Linked DNA regions of Homo sapiens: all the other regions are linked to region 1. The links come from fine-mapping of genetic effects on gene expression. A gene starts in region 1. Each other region holds a variant in brackets. All regions are shown on one strand. Distances are from middle to middle.

Evidence for each region. PIP is the estimated chance that this variant, and not a neighbour inherited with it, causes the effect. A credible set is the group of variants that fine-mapping cannot tell apart.
Region 2: its variant is the best candidate, but not a certain one, in a credible set for the expression of HTR3B in whole blood (TOPMed, PIP 0.73).
Region 3: its variant is the best candidate, but not a certain one, in a credible set for the expression of HTR3B in whole blood (TOPMed, PIP 0.67).

Annotation. Positions count from the first base shown.
Region 1 is chr11:113,901,124-113,906,791 of GRCh38, forward strand. It overlaps HTR3B (5-hydroxytryptamine receptor 3B), which reads left to right and starts at 3,673. Exons shown (of 9, transcript NM_006028.5): 1 at 3,673-3,862. The coding sequence starts at 3,811.
Region 2 is chr11:113,934,611-113,939,610 of GRCh38, forward strand. All of the region lies in intron 6 of HTR3B (5-hydroxytryptamine receptor 3B), which reads left to right. Among named protein-coding and RNA genes, the nearest start is that of HTR3B, 32 kb to the left of the region's middle. The variant G/A (reference allele first, on the strand shown) is at 2,275.
Region 3 is chr11:113,949,693-113,955,375 of GRCh38, forward strand. No RefSeq gene overlaps it. Among named protein-coding and RNA genes, the nearest start is that of HTR3A, 23 kb to the right of the region's middle. RefSeq lists an enhancer at 2,273-2,826. The variant G/A (reference allele first, on the strand shown) is at 2,646.

The DNA.
Region 1 (5,668 bases):
AGAGGAGCAATACCAAACCTAAAAGAACTGAGTATGAGCTGGGTGTAGTGGTGCATGCCTATATTCCTAGCTACTGGGGAGGCCAAGGCGGAAGGATCACTTGAGCTCAGGAGATCAAGACCAGCCTGGGCAACATACCAACACCTCATCTCTACTAAAAAGAGAAGAAATTAGCCAGGTGTGGTGGCACACACATATACTCCCAGCTATGGGAGGCTGGGATGGGAGGATTGCTTGAGGCTGGGAGATGGAGGCTACAGTGAGCCATGATCACACCACTGCATTCCAGCCTGGGCGACAGAGTGAAACTCTGCCTCTTAGGGAAAAAAAAAAAAAAAGCTAAAAGTACTGAGTAAACAAAGTCCAGACAGGACACTAAGATTAGAAAAAGAAAGATCTAAGCCAGCTGACAGTACAGAGCAAGGCTGTCAAGGAAAGATCAGGAAGCATTGTATATAAACTACTTTGAAGACAAGTCACTCATACAAAATCATTGCCATCTTGACAGAATTCATCAGCCAATAAAGAGCCATAATGGGCAGGATTACTAGACTGTTGTTAAGTTAGCTAATGAAAGTTGTAATGTACCTGTATTACACATCATTAGTAATGGCCTTCCAGTAACAGATGGGCATATCAGAAAGTGCAAAGAAAAGGGAGGGAAGCACGTCCCCAGAAGGTTTGACTTAGAGTCATAGCTTACTACAATGCATGGCAAGAATGCAATGTCGATCATCGCCTCAATTAAACCTTTGCATAAAGGGATGCTTCTGCATTGCTTTCCCATAAAAACTGCTACCTACATAGCTATATTGCCTGTAGCTTGCCTTTCTCTTGTCCTAATTCATCCCATAAGTAGAAGCTGACAATTCAAAGAACTGATAGGAAGAGCTGAGACTTTGAGGGCCAGATCAGTCCTCTATGATCTTCCCTCTTGATGAAGCCCCATTTATCTGCCCACCCTCTCTAAAGAGTATTTCTCAGATAAACTTTCCATAACTGTGTACCAAAGTTCCTCCACCAAGTTACATTTAAATTACTCTTTCTTCTGAAATATTTTCAAATGTATAGCAGAATTGGATGGATAGTACAAAGAATTCCCCTAGACCCCCACAATCATTTGAGAATAAGTTAGCGACATGATCAACATGATGTGCCCTGTTTTTGTTTTTTGTTTTTTTTTTCTTTTCTGAGACAGAGTCTCATTCTGTCGCCCAGGCTGAAGTGCAGTGGTGTGATCTCGGCTCAGTGCAACCTCTGCCTTCTGGGTTCACAAGATTCTCATGCCTCAGCCTCCTGAGTAGCTGGAATTACAGGCATGTGCCACCGTGCCGGGCTAATTTTTGTATTTTTAGTAGAGACAGGGTTTCACCATGTTGGCCAGGCTGGCCTTGAACTCCTGATCTCAGGTGATCTACCCACCTAGGTCTCCTAAAGTGCTGGGATTACAGGCGTGAGCCACTGTGTGCGATCTTCCCTCATTCTTGAATACTTAGTGTGCTGGTCTTACAAACAAGGACATTCTTTTGCATAATCTCTATACAATTAAAATCAGGAAACCAACATTACTACATTGCCACATTACTACCATCTAATCCACATACCTCATTCGAGTTTCAATTCTTCCCAAAATGTTCTTTATAACAAAAGGATCCAATTCAGAATCAGATATTGTGCTTGTGTCTCTTTAGTCTGATAGGTTCCTCAGTCTTTCCTTAACTTTTATAACCTTGGCACTTTTGTGTGTGTGTGTTTTTGTTTTTGAGACAGGGTCTACCTCTATTGCCCAGGCTGGAGTGCAGTGGCACAATCACAGCTCACTGCAGACTCTATCTCCTGAGCTCAAGTGATCCTCCTGCCTCAGCCTCCCAAGTAGCTGGGACTACAGGAGTGCACCACCACATTAAACTAATCTTTTATTTTTTTGTGTGGAGACAGGGTATCCTTATGTAGCTTAGGCTGGTCTCAAATTCCTGGGCTCAAGCAGTCCTCTTACTTCAACCTCCCAAAGTACTGGGATTACAGGTATGAGCCATTGCACCTGGCCCACCTTGGCACTTTTGAAGATGCCTGCTGTTTTGTTTGTCCCACAGTATGCCACTGTCTCATCTGGTGTTTCCTCCTGAATAGATTCAAGTTATGAATTTTTGGCAAGACTATACCGGAAGAGCTATGGAAGCTAGGTGTGCTTGTTACTATTGGGGTGTCATTCTCCTAGGCTGCTAAGTGGACAGAGCTAGGGAATATATGCATGTATGAACATGTGCAAACACACATTACATTTGTATTTATTTCTTTTCTTTTCTTTTTTTTTTTTTTTTTTTGAGGCGGAGTCTCCCTCTGTCTCCCAGGCTGGAGTGCAGTGGCGCGATCTTGGTTCATGGCAACCTCCACCTCCTGATTCAAACAATTCCCCTGCCTCAGCCTCCCGAGTAGCTGGGATTACAGGCATGTGCCACCACGCCTGACTAATTTTTGTAGTTTCAGTAGAGATGGGGCTCACCATGTTGGTCAGGCTGGTCTCAAACTCCTAACCTCAAGTGATCCACTGGCCTCGGCCTCCCAAAGTGCTGGGATTACAGGCTTGAGCCACCACGCCCAGCTTATTTGCAATTATTTATATATTTAGCAAATGTACTGAAAACCATGGGTTCACACTGATACCTCCAAAACCAAGTCAACACCAAATGGTTATCTTAGTTTTCTCTCTTTCTGTGTATACCACTCCCTTCACCAACAGTAAGAAAGCAATTAGGCTACATTTTATTGGTAGATGAAAATTAGGTGTAGAACTTCATGGATTCTAAACAAAGGGACTGAGTGATTAGGAGAATAGGAATCAAATATATACTTTCCCCCCTTCGGTTGGCTCTGTGAAAATTTATATCAAAATTTGCCTCTATAATCTCATTTTTAATAAAAAAGCAGGCAGATGTTGGAAATGGTATTTGTTTTTTCTTTCTAGAGCATCTGGGGGTGTCTAGAAATGGAAAATAGTGTTATTGTATAGAATTATGCATCATGTTCCTTAGTAATGAAAAATGAATGCGTATTCAATCAAAAAGTGAAAAAAAAACTTTTATTAAATGATGTTGAACTTTGTTTTCATCTTCAATAAGCCTAGAAGCATCCTTTCTAGAAGGTTACTTTCTGAATTGTGAGCAGTGAAAATTTGAGAAGCCCTCCTATTTATCAAAAGTCAATGTTTCTTTTAATTAAAAGGGCTTAGGAAAAACAAAAAGCACTTTTCCATTGCATTGTTTGCAGTTGTTCTTCATTAGACAATACCAGGTTTCCATTAGCCTTGTGTAATTCAAGAGCCCAAGAACCACTGTCAAATGCTGAAGATGTTACTGCATAAGTCTGATTTAGAACAGCTATTTGGATTTCAATTATTAATGAAATTAGTGTCCTGAATGTCAGCAAGAGTACTGCCTTAGGTAAAGGCTGTAAAGGAAATCATATTAGTGTGGAATTTCCTCTCCTTAGGGGCTCCTCTTAGATTACATTATTCACTTAGCTATCTCCTGTCAGGAAAATGGAAATGTTGGCCACGGTCTGATCTTGGGGCAGAACCAAAGGGAGAAGTTAAGGGATTTCATGACGGCATCAATTCCAAAACATTTGCATGGTGCTGGTATTGCCTTTGGTCCCACTGAGTGTTTACAAAATAGCACCAGTAAGGATAGCATCAACTGGCAAACGGAGAAGGAGGAGAACAGAGTGGAGAGGAACCCTGTTAGGAGAAATTGAGCGGCATTCCATCTGGTAGGCAAGTTTGCATTTCTCCTTTTTGGGATCTGCCCAGGAATGTTGTCAAGTGTAATGGCTCCCCTGTGGGCCTGCATCCTGGTGGCTGCAGGTGAGTCCTTTTAATAATTTTACTAGGCATTAAGGATTAACTCTTAGAAGATAGAGACAATATTTGTATACACCGTACTGTAGGACTTCTCAGGCATGTTTGTTTTTATTCATCGTCTGTAAAATGCCAGTCCTGTGAAGCTATATGGAAAACAATGATTTGTTTGTGACTTGGCTCCTATGATTGCAAATACGTATACATATAGCATCAGACTGTGGGGCTTTTTACACATAGCTGAAAATATGCTCTGAAATGTTATAATTGCTTGATAAATCTCTGCTTCTCTAGAAATCAAGCTCTCTGCAGGTTGATTGAGAGTTTGGGGCATTCTTTTTCAAATTTGCTTTTATGTGTGGATAATATGTTTTTATTATCCAAAATAGTCTTGGCTTCATTATCAGCTGTTAGCAGCCCAGAGAAAAAGTCCACTAGATTTGTCATGGCTACAGATATATGTATATCATTTTGGTATTAGAGGCCTTAACATCTCGCCTTACAAAATCTATATAGGTGATGAGTATATCTCTAAAGACAGGTACTATAAACTGGTAAGTTTTGAGTCTACAATTCCTCTTAAAAGTAATTTAGAAGTTAATACTTTTTTTTCTAAATTTCTAGAACTATATTTCCATGGCACCAGTATTAACTCTACTGAATTGAATCATTTTAGTTAGGATACAATTGATTCTTAGTACATGCGCACAAATCAAGAATTTATGATTATGCTGGTGTTCTCAACACCCCACTTTCTTGAGGTTTCTCCTAGAGCTCATATCTGAATTCTCAAGTTTTAGGATGTAACTGGAAGTGGAATGAGTCAATTATAGAGATGAGTTAGAAATTTGGTAGCCAGGAAGCTGGAAATGATTTTTTTATTGGGTAGAGAAGAAAAATAGCCACTTATCATTAAAGTATAAAAATCCTGGATGTTGAACATAAAGGATAAAAGCATATCTTAATTGTAAAAAATAAAAACAGAGGAAGTGTCATTAAATGCCAAATGGGTTTCTTAGTAGAAAATAATCGTGAACATTAAACTAAGATAAAATAGAAAAATGAAGGTAAGAAAACAGACTAAGTTCTTAACAATATCTCTCTAATGTTTTGTATTATGCATGATTTTTGTTCTAAATGTAGCAGAAAGAAGTGTTTTAATAGTGTCTGATAACCAGTGCTTTACCATAAATCATTCCGTGGATACTTGTTGCAGAAAGACCTGCCCTGTGGAATTGTACTGGGTTTTACTATGTTTACTTTACGTATTTTACTATATTTACAAATCAAGATGATTTGTTAAGTGTAAGAGCACGGAACCAATCCCAGGGGGCAGTGTGCTGGTATAGAAGGAGGCCTGAACAAGGAGAGCCAGCTAATTCCTGCTTCACCACTCACCAGCCACGTAACCCTGGGAAGTCAATTAATCTCTTAGAGACTCAGTTTTCCTGTAAGCTAACTTTATTTTGGATATTCATGACAATCAGATAAGACAGCATTGTTAAATTGTAAGGTGAAATGCAAATGTAAGATATTATTAACCTGAAAACACATGCAGAAAATACCACTGGCTATTTCTGTCCAATAATATACTCCATACAACATGTCAGTCTTCTTTTTGAAAGGTTACTTGCTGTTGTTCCTGATATTCTCAGGGAGCCAGGTTACACTTAATCATGTAGCGTCATGATTAAGAGCTTGGACTTCGAATCCAGACCAGCTGTGTGTAAATATCACTCCCTTCACTTGCAAGCTTCATGACCTTGGGCAGTGCTAAGCTCACTATGCCAATAGTCCCTCATCTGCAGGAAT
Region 2 (5,000 bases), 33 kb after region 1:
AATGCTGGCTAGTATAATCGCAACTCATACCCTCCTGATGGTGGGCTTTGGGCTCTTGCCTAGAATCCTGCTTGGTTTTAAGCAAAGCTTGCATTGTGGCCTGTTTGTCCACTTTTCTTGTAAGGAAAAGGGAAGGAAAGCAAGCAAGCTTTTTTTTTTTTTAAATTTCAATGAGTTTCTTGGCTAGGAGTAAACACCTCATTAATTTTAAAGATATCAGCCCACAAACATTATTAATGCAGCCCGAATAATGGAGAGCATTAAAGGGAAATGTGAAGGAGTAGCACATGCAAGGTGGAACATAGTCACCTACCAAGTGCTCCTGAGAACACTGCACACACCATTACCTACACTGCACGGAGGAGACAAACACAGGAAAGAGATGGGGCAGGTAAACAAGGGCGTGTGCTTGCATACACAGGCACACATGTGCACACACACACACACACACACTCTCTCTCTCTCCATAGAGCAGCTATTATTTGTAGTTACATGTCACTTTCCTTCACCCTAAATGTTAATTCGTCAACAGCAGCTGAAGGTTTTCTATATACCATCTCCATTTTAATTATGATGAACAGAGACAGAAGATTGTCTAATGGAGGGGAGGCTTCCCTGGATCTCAGAGCCATGGTCCAGTTCCTCTGCTCTCCTCACTGCCATGCTTCCCCCCGGGTACGTTTTGAAGTGGAAGTGTGCTGGAGGCAGGTGCAATTTGATTTCATGCTCTTGGAACTTTTCCATGGGTCCTTTTGCCCCGGGGGTGGACGTGGGTTATCTAGCAGGGCTGGCCTCTGCCCTGGTCCTCAGGAGCAGAGTAGGGAGAGAATCCTGAGTAGAGTCACAGATCATATTTGGTGGGACAGGAGGCCAGACTCAGGAGCAATTCTGCAGCTTTAGAAAGACTAAAAGTGGATTCAGTGACGATCACAGTTTTCTGCCTCCCAACCTCGCTCAGCCTCCATGCATTTCTGCTCTGTGCACAGAGCCTAGGCTCATTCTCTTACTCCATACCAGACATCCCACTCTGAATTTAGCAACCAAGGCACCTGGCTTTCCTTCAACAGCCCTTGGCCAGTGATGTGAAATTCAGAGCCTGATTCTATTATGCCAACACTGGGCCTGCCAGGGTCCTGACAGCAAAGGACCATCTCCTCTTAATCTACTCGCCGGCTGTGTCTCAGTCCAGGCTGCCCAGCGGGAGGTTGGGGACGGGTAGGGAAGTCAGGAGAAGCAATAATCTATTCTAAATTCATCCTTGCCCTTGGCCTGAGGTACACTGCTGCCATTTATACTAAATCAAGTGCTCCGGATGCCCCATGAGTTTCAGCTAATGTGCAATCATAGCTGCCGACTCTGGGACACAAATTGTTTATCAGAGGACACCACGGATACTTTGGAGTCAGGCTACATTCCACAGGGGGCCCAGAGCATAGGCACTTCTCCCTACAAAGATGTCTGTGTACAGCCTGGGACCCGGCCCAGCAGCCATGGGAGGGGAGGTTTCCTCCAATATATTATTGGAGGTGCTGGTTCCCAGAAACAGCAGGGTGAGAGCATTTGATTTTGCATGGCAGTGGTTTTTTTCTTTTTTTTCTTTAAAGAATGAGGGTAGAAGTGGGAGGAGGTAGGAATACAATTTAGGAACTCGTGTTGGATGGAAAAGGGTGGACAGCTGTGGAAACTAAACCGAGCCCAACCACAGATATCCTCACACCAAGTAAAGTGTTTATTCGGGCAGGAATTGGGGTGCGCACAGGGTGTCCTAGAAAATGCAAAGCGGGCATTTGGGAAAGAAAGGTGCTTCATTTATCCTCTTTTTCTGTTATAATTTTTTTTCTAGATTAGGTAGAGTAACTTTGTTGAGATACTTATTGAATGCAGCTTATAAACTTGATAGAAAATCAAGATCCCTCTAAGTGCTAGCAGATCATATGAGAGAGAGAGAGAGAAAGAGAGAGAGAATTTAGAGCCCTGGATATCCTTTCTGGGTCACTCAAGTGATGTGGGAATCACAGACTGACTTTCTGCTAATCCAGAGCGACCCATAGTCTAGATCCAAGTAACTCTGACTCCGGTGCTTAAATGGCAGCAACTTTCCTGTTCTTTCTGAGTTGGGAATGCTGGGAGGGGCTTTGGAGAGGAGGCAAATGGGTTCTTCTGTATGAAGCGGAGTCTAGGCGTCAAAATTCCAACTGTGTCATAAAGACGGTCATGCAAAACTGAGTACTGGTGGGGTCTACCATCAAGGAGGCAATTACAGGCTAACCTTGG[G/A]GCCTATTCCATCTCCAAGGAGCTCTCCACACACACATTCGGAATTAGATTGATCTCTTTCATTAACATCAATAGGCTCCAAATACCTTTGTGTACTTATTATTACCTGGCTTTAATGGATAATGAAATTGTGGCATAATATTGCTAACACCTGAAGGGTGTCTAATGGGGAACATGGACTGAAACTAAAGTGCTTTTTCTTCCCTTTCTGTGGAATTTAAAGGCACCAGCTCCTTTAGTCCATTAGAAATGATGAGCTGTAGGTAGGGGCAGTTTTGCAGAGAGCAGTGTCTCACTGAGCAGGTGACATGCCTTCTACTCAGCAGAAGCAGGAGTCACTGCTTCTTGCATGATCTGCAGAGAGGTCGCCCTCAGAAAGACTGACCTCAAGAGGATAGCCTCCATTCAGGCTAACTCCACACTTCCATTATATTGGAACTAAAAGTAGTGCTACTACCAGACTCCAGTACAATTCAATAAACATCTTTTGAGTTCTTACCATGTGCCAGGCTCCATGGTGAACACTTAGGACATAAAGATGAATAAATGAAGGCTCCTGACATCTATCACAGATCCCCAAAATCTGCCCAGGGAGACATAATAGCAATAACCACAAAGCTGAGCACTTAGCCTATGCCAAGCACCATTTTAAAGTTTGTACCTATAATCCTCACATCCCTAGGAGATGAGTGATCCAAGTATCTGCATTTTTACAAATAAATGAATTGAGGTGCAGAGAAGTTAAGTAACTTACAGGAGGCTGCAAGGTGACTGGTGGAGCCTGGACTTGAACCCAGGCAACTTGACTCCAGAAACTATGTGCCTAATTCCATATCATGCTGACACACAACTAAAGGCAGTGCAGTATATTCTGGTCCATTCTTTGCCATTTGCCCACTGGGCATTACTTGGCAGGTCGCGTGTATTAGTGTCACAAGGCTGCCATAACAAAGTAGCCCAAACTGGGTGGCTCAAAACAACAGAAATTCATTTTCTTGCAGTTATGTAGGCTGTAAATCTGAAATCAAGACTTGGGCAGGGTTGGTTCCTTCTGGGCATTCTGAGGGAGAATCTGCTCCTTGCCTCTCCTCTGCCTCTGGTTGCTGCCAGGAACCTGTGGTGTTCCTTGGCTGGTAGATGCGTTGCTCCCGTCTCTGCCTCCATCTTCACATGGCCTTCTCCTTGTGTGTCTCTTCTCTTCTTATCAGAACTCCAGTCACATTGGATTAAGGGCCCACTCTACTCCAGTATGACCTCATCCTACTCTAGTACATCTTCAATGATATCATTTCCAAATAAGGTCACATTCTGAGGTTCCAGGAAATACATGAATTCTTGGGGGCCCTCTTCAACCTAGTAGAGTCTGCAACCCAAAATTCACTTCTGCTCCATGTGCAAATTCATTCAGCCGCATCCCAACATCCCCCAAAGTTTAACCCAGCATCATTCCAGTGTCAACTCTTAAGTCCAAAATATCATCTAAATATAAACTCGAAAAGTCCCAAATCTCATTGTTTAAATGATCTAAAGCAGGTAATGACCTTGATTATGGTCCATTCTGGGGCAAAATTTCTCTCCTGCAACTGACTCATGAAACACTCAATCACCAGAATCTGCTGCCTGATCCTACAAGATGGGATAAGGGCAGGGAACTGTCTTATTAATAGTACTAACTTCAGTATTTAGGATAGTACCAGACAACCTGTTCATGCTCAATTAATGTTTATTGAACAAAGGAATAAAGGGCTCTGATTATCCAATGAGATAATAAAAACAAAAAATTTCTGAAAACTATATGATGAAATTAGAGTTTATTTAGGCTGCACTGGGTTTGCAGGGAAAATTAGTCTAGGCCTGGCACTGTGGCTAACGACTTTGGGAGGCTGAGGCAGGTGGATCACCTGAAGTCAGGAGTTCGAGACCAACCTGGCCAACATGGCAAAACCCTAAAAATGCAAAAATTAGCTGGGCGTGGTGGCAGGTGCCTGTAATCCCAGCTACGCAGGAGGCTGAGGCAGGAGAATCGCTTGAACCTGTGAGGCGGAGGTTGCAGTGAGTCGAGATTGCGTCATTGTACTCCAGTCTGGGCAATAAGAGCGAAATTGTGTCTAAAAAAAAAAAACTAGTCCATAGGCAACATTGCCCTTAAATAACCACAAGAAAAAGGTGGATTCTTTCTTCTGGAAGAAAACCAAAACCCAAAACTATAGGTACTATTTTGTGTGTCTTAGAAATGCGAACATCCTTCCTAAAGGTAAGAGAATGGATGAGGTGGTTTTGGAAGGCCTATCTAGTTTTGCGATTCTATAAGCCAAACAAAGACAAGAGACGGCTTTGCTTTATGTTACAGCAGAAGCTAATTGTCCACCCTTGTCCCTATGTCTTTTCCCTCTGCCTTCATTTACTGTTGACATCCAGTGAGGACTATCCTTCTGACAGGGTCAGCTAATAATATGCAGGGTTAGTGAAAAATGAAAATGCAGGACCCCTTATTCAAACATTTTTAAGAATTTCAAAATAGCACCAGTGGAGCACTAAACCAAGTGCAGGGCCCTTTCAAGAGCAGGCTCTGTGTGACTACATAGGTTCATATCCACAAAGCCTGCCTACCTCCTAACCTCTTAGCTCTTGCCACAGCTCTCCCTCAGATGATTTCTCGGGGAACACGTGGTCTGATAAACCTGTACTTTCTTGGAAATCAGGGACCTTGAGGGGCCACACCATCC
Region 3 (5,683 bases), 49 kb after region 1:
ATAAGAAACATTTACAATCTGGCTGGGCGCAGTGGCTCATGTCTGTAATCCCAGCACTTTGGGAGGCCGAGGCGGGTGGATCACTTGAGGTCAGGAATTCAAGACCAGCCTGGCCAACATAATGAAACCCCATCTCTACTAAAAATACAAAAATTAGCTGGGCATGGCGGCACATGCCTGTAATCCCAGCTACTTGGAAGGCTGAGGCAGAAGAATTGCTTGAACCTGGGAGGTAGAGGTTGCGGTGACCTGAGATCGCACCACTGCACTCCAGCCTGGGCAACAGAGTGAGACTCTGTCTCAAAAAAAAAAAAAAAGAAAAGAAACATTTACAATCTACTCTCTCTGAAGCCTGCTGCCTGGAAGCTTCATCTGCATGATAAAACTTTGGTCTCCACAACCACTTACCATAATCCAGACATTCCTTTCTATTGACAATAACTCTTTTAAACAATAGCCAATCACAAAAATTTTAAATCTACTTAGGATCTGAAACCCCTTGCCCCACTGGCTTTAAGTTGTCCCCCCTTTCTGGACGGAATCAATATGTATCTTAAATGTATTTGATTGATGTCTCATGTCTCCCTAAAACGTACAAAACCAAGCTGTGCCCTGACCACCTTGGGCACATGTTCTCAGGGTCTCCTGGGGGCTGTGTCACTGGCCGTGGTCACACATATTTGGCTCAGAATAAATCTCTTCCAATATTTTACAGAGTTTGACTCTTTTCTTCGACAACATCATGAACAAATGGCACTACAGATCTCCTCCTGGAATAGTGTCCCTCTGTGGTGGGAGGAATATGGGGTGCCAGCAGCCCTTATTTGCAGAGCAGCTTTAGCTCAGCCCCTCCAAATGTTCATACATTTCATGATTCCTGTTTCATAGAGAAAGGAAACTGAGGAACAGAGCAAAAATGGGATTCTCCCAGCTGTGAGCACTCCTACCATCTGCTCTTTCGCAGAATCCAAGGTGGTTTCAGCACTCACCAAGAAATCACAGCTCCAGTTCTGGGGACTTCACTGATGTCTAGAACAAAGACTTAGTTAACTCCCAGGCCAGCCAGGCAGCCCCAGTTCATCATGTTGTAGAACTTTCTCCTTAGTACAGCTAAAAACAGAGTCCTTGTCATACAGCCATGAAAAATTAGGCTTGCAGACACTTTGAAAATGGAATTTACTGGGCAAAAAAAAAAAAAAAAAAAAAAAAAAAATGGAAATAGGGACTCTCAGCAAAGCGAGAGTCTGCTAGCCAGTTTTCCCACCTCACAAATTGAATTCCTAGTTACCACATCCCAGAACAGGAGAGAGAGGCCAGGCTTCTCCTCCCCGCAGAGGGCACGAACTTTCCATGGCTCTACCCTGCTCTTCCAGCATGCGGGCTGGTCAGGGGTTCTCCAGGGATCTTCCCCCTTTGTACTTGGCTCTCTTAATTATATTTCTTTTTTTTTTTTCTTTTTTTTGAGACAGAGTCTCACTCTGTCGCCCAGGCTGGAGTGCGGTGGTGCGATCTTGGCTCACTGCAGTCTCCACCTCCTGGGTTCAAGCGATTCTTGTGTCTCAGCCTCCTGAGTAGTTGGGACTACAGGCATGCGCCACCACACTTGGCTAATTTTTGTATTTTTAGTAGAGACAGGGTTTCACCATGTTGGCCAGGCTGGTCTCGAACTTCTGACCTCAGGTGATCCTCCCACCTCAGCCTCCCAAAGTGCTGGGATTACAGGTGTGAGCCACCACGCCTGGCCTCAATTATATTACAAGACGACTTCTGAGTGCTGCTCTGATGACCTCCCCGAGCCTCTGCAGCCTTGAGTATTGCCAATAATCAGGTGGCAGAGGGTCTCCTTTTCCTCCCAAGATACCCGCCACACCTTTTGCAGTTGTCCTAGAGGAGCAGTAGCTGCCATGATAAAGGAAGCTGAGTTTTTCACCTTTTAAACCACTGTGACACAGCACGTCTCCTGGGGTCTGACGTCCCAGCCTGGATGAGCCAGAACCGGGAAGCAAATGAGAGTGGCCATGAGGGGAGCCAGAGTGAAAGTGCCGTTGCTAGAATGCATCCTCCTCTCAGCTCAGCCTCAAGGCTTCCCCAGATGCTCTCCCTTCTCAGAGATCTAATGACACATGTTAAGGCAAGGTTAGTAGAAGTGGGTGGAGTCTGAATTTTATCCTGCCCTGTGGCTCTGAGGCTTCTAGGAAACTTCAGAGCTTGGGTTTTAAGGTAAAATCCACCAATCAATTCTTGCATGGTGGATTGTCTCCTCAGGGCAGAGAGCCCTTCGGGAAGGCCGGGCTTCCTTCCTTGCAACCCCCTCTGTGACCCTGGGCTCCACCTCAGCCATCACCCTGTCGAGCTTAGCCTACCTTGTCCTGTTCCCTCGATCAGACTCCATCTCAGCAGCCGGAACTGCTCAGTCCTGACTTATTTACCTGCGGAGACAGTAAGAGCTTCATAATTAGCTGAGCAACAGCATGGAGGCTTTTATGAGCAGCCACGCTCCCCCCACACTCTGGTGTCCGTAATTGAAATGACCCACGCCAGTGATTAGATTAGGGGGCTGAAGAAGCCCAGCACGCTGCTCCCCGTCCTGTCGGGGAGGTGATGTAATTAAGTTTGTGCTTCATTTGGCAGAGGCTATAAAGCAG[G/A]AATTGCATCAAGGTTTTCTGCAGGGGTGGAAGGAACTGCTGGGCTGTGGGCGGCCTCTGTGTCAGGCAAGACTACAGATCTGAGTGAGAGGGAGCCCCTTGCTCCCCCTTTACCTTACCCTCTGTACCTCTCCCACAGCCTGTGTTGGCCTTTGAAGGCCTGGGGTGTGTGTAAGTCTAGCGGGAAGGTCATCCCTCCTCAGTGTCACTGGTAACCCGGGCTGCATGTGGACAGCCAGCTCCTGGTCACCCTGCTCATCCTCTTTGAAGAGCGCCAGGCTGAGAGCAAGGGAATCGGGTGCTGTTGGCAGTTCTTTTTCTCCCCATATCCCTGCCCAGTCTCGGCTTGCAGCTCTTCCTTCCACAAGCCTCCTTCTCTACCCCAGCCCCATTCTCCTGCGGTCTCTTCCCACCACCTGCCCTTTTGCACGCGGGGCTGGCTTTGGCCAAGTTGTGCAATAGCTGAAGTTTCTTCTCATTCCTTCCTCTTTCCCACGCGTATCTACCCAGGGACCTATGTCGGCACACTGCCCAAAGGACATCTCACTGTTGTGTTCTTCCCAAATCTACCTTCCCGGACACTGTGCACAAATGAGACCAAAAATCCTTCCACTGTGCCAATGCCTTTTAAATACAGTCATTTAAAATTAATCTGTTCTGAAATACAAACTGGTGAAATGAGTTCATGCCACATTTTCAACCTGGGGTATATTATCCCTAGCATGGCTCAGCAGTGTGCTAGCTATACTCAAAACCCCAGAATGAACATGATTTCCCTTCTAAAGCATTGGTTTTACTCAACAGTATATTGTTACGAGAATTATTTACTTTCCTATGAAAATACATACTGATATATTTTGGTGAAGAAACAAAAATTTAGAATAAAACCTTAAAGATACAACTTTATTTTTAAAAATATTTTATTTTTAATTATTAGGGGTACATATTTATAGGGTACATGTGATATTTTGATACAAGTATACAATGTGTAATGCTCAAATCAGGGTAACTGAAATATCCATCATCTCAAGAATTTATCATTTTTTTGTGTTAGGAACATTCCAACTCCACTGTCCAGTTATTTTGGGTTTTATTTATTTGTTTGCTTTGAGACAGAGTCTCGCTCTGTCACCCAGGCTGGAGTGCAGTGGCACGATCTCAGCTCACTGCAACCTCCGCCTCCTGGGTTCCAGCGATTATCCTGCCTCAGCCTCCTGAGTAGCTGGGATTACGGGTACACACCAGCAGGTCTAGCTAATTTTTGTATTTTTTAGTAGAGACAGGGTTTCGCCACGTTGGCCAAGCTGGTCCCGAGCTCCTGACATCCAGTGATCCACCCACCTCAGCCTCCCAAACCGTTGGGATTACAGGCATGAGCCACTGCGCCCGGCCTCACTCTTTGGTTATTTTGAAATGTACAATAAATTATTGTTGACTATAGTTGTCCTATTGTGCTACTGGTCACTAGATCTCATTCCTTCTATCTAACTGGATTTTGTACCCATTAACTATTTCCTCTTTACCCCCCCTCCCTCCCCACTACCTTTCCCAGCCTCTGGTAACCATCGTTCTGCTATCTCCATGAGTTCAACTGTTTTGTTTTGTTTTGTTTTGTTTTTAGCTCCCACATATAAATGGGAACATGCAATGCTTGTCTTTCTGTGCCTGGCTTATTTCACTTAACATAATGACCTCCAGTTCCATTCATGCTGCAAATGACAATTTAATTCTTTTTTATAGCTGAATAATATTTCATTGTGTGTATGTACCACATTTTCTTTATGCATTCATCTATTGATGGACACTTAGGTTGATTCCATATTAAAGATAAAACTTCAGGCTTCATGGAAGGGGATCCTTTTTGGCTCTGCCCTTGCTTTAAAATATATCATACTAATACAAAATTTGAGGTATTGGCAAGGCCAACAGATCAGGAGACAATTGCTGGAAAAGATAGTTTATTATTCCTAGTTCCCAACAGGGGAGCATGAGCCACACTTCACCGTGGGAAGTGGGGCATGCAAGCAGAAAACACCCAGGTTGATTACAGGGTTAGGGGGTGGGGAGGCGCTGTGAGGAAGAGCCTTAATTGTTTCTGCGGGAAAGAGCAGGTAAGGCAGGGTAAGCAGGCTTAGGACGGGCTAGCGTGAATCATTTCAGGGGACTCTGGGGCATGGCAGCTCTCCCTAGTTGTCTGATATCCGGCTCTGAGATGATTAGGGCATGTGGATAGTGGCCTGGAGTATGAGAACCTGATAAAAAAGGTTACTGGGGATGTGGGCACTGGATTGGTTTGTATTTGAAAAGTTTGCTTGTAGGCGAGTTGTTTGCTATCTCTAGGAATTGGCTATCCCTGGAAGGGGCAGTCTCGCCAGGGTCAGCAAGGCCCCAGATGTCAAAGCATCAGAATATAAAAAATAAAAGACAAGGTTAATACAGCCCCTCTGAGATTCCAGTCAGGACGTATCCTTTTCTTCTGGTTTTCTGGGTAGGTTAGCAGAAATGGGCAGCAGAACTCAAAGGACTGGCTTAAGAGGTGAAAATGTTGGATATTGTGGCAAGCATGCAGGAAAAGTTATTTGAGGAAAGCAATACCTGGGCAAGACATATTCATTCATGCATTAATCCACTCACCCACTCATTTGGTAGTAGTAGTTTGAGCATCAGCTCTGTGTCAGGGGCCTTGCCAGGTGCCAGAATAGCACCTTGAATAGGACACTCAGAGTTTCTGGCCTTGAAGGAGCTTTTAATCCAACAGAAGTGGTGCAGTAAAAAGAATACAGGTTTGGAGGTCAGAAACATGCATTTAAGTTCCATTACAGCACAGTTACTTAAAGCTGACATGGATTTCCTCTGAATGCAAACCTGATGGTTTGGCAGAAGCTGCCTGGAGTATTGTCTGGAGATAGATTTTTGGGCCACCAGTGGGGTCTGTGGGAAAGCATGCTGTAATGAATTAGTGCTGTCAGCCACAGGTGACATCAGGTGAGGGATAATCAGAGCTTGCCATGTGCCAAGCACTGTGCTGATGCTTTGGG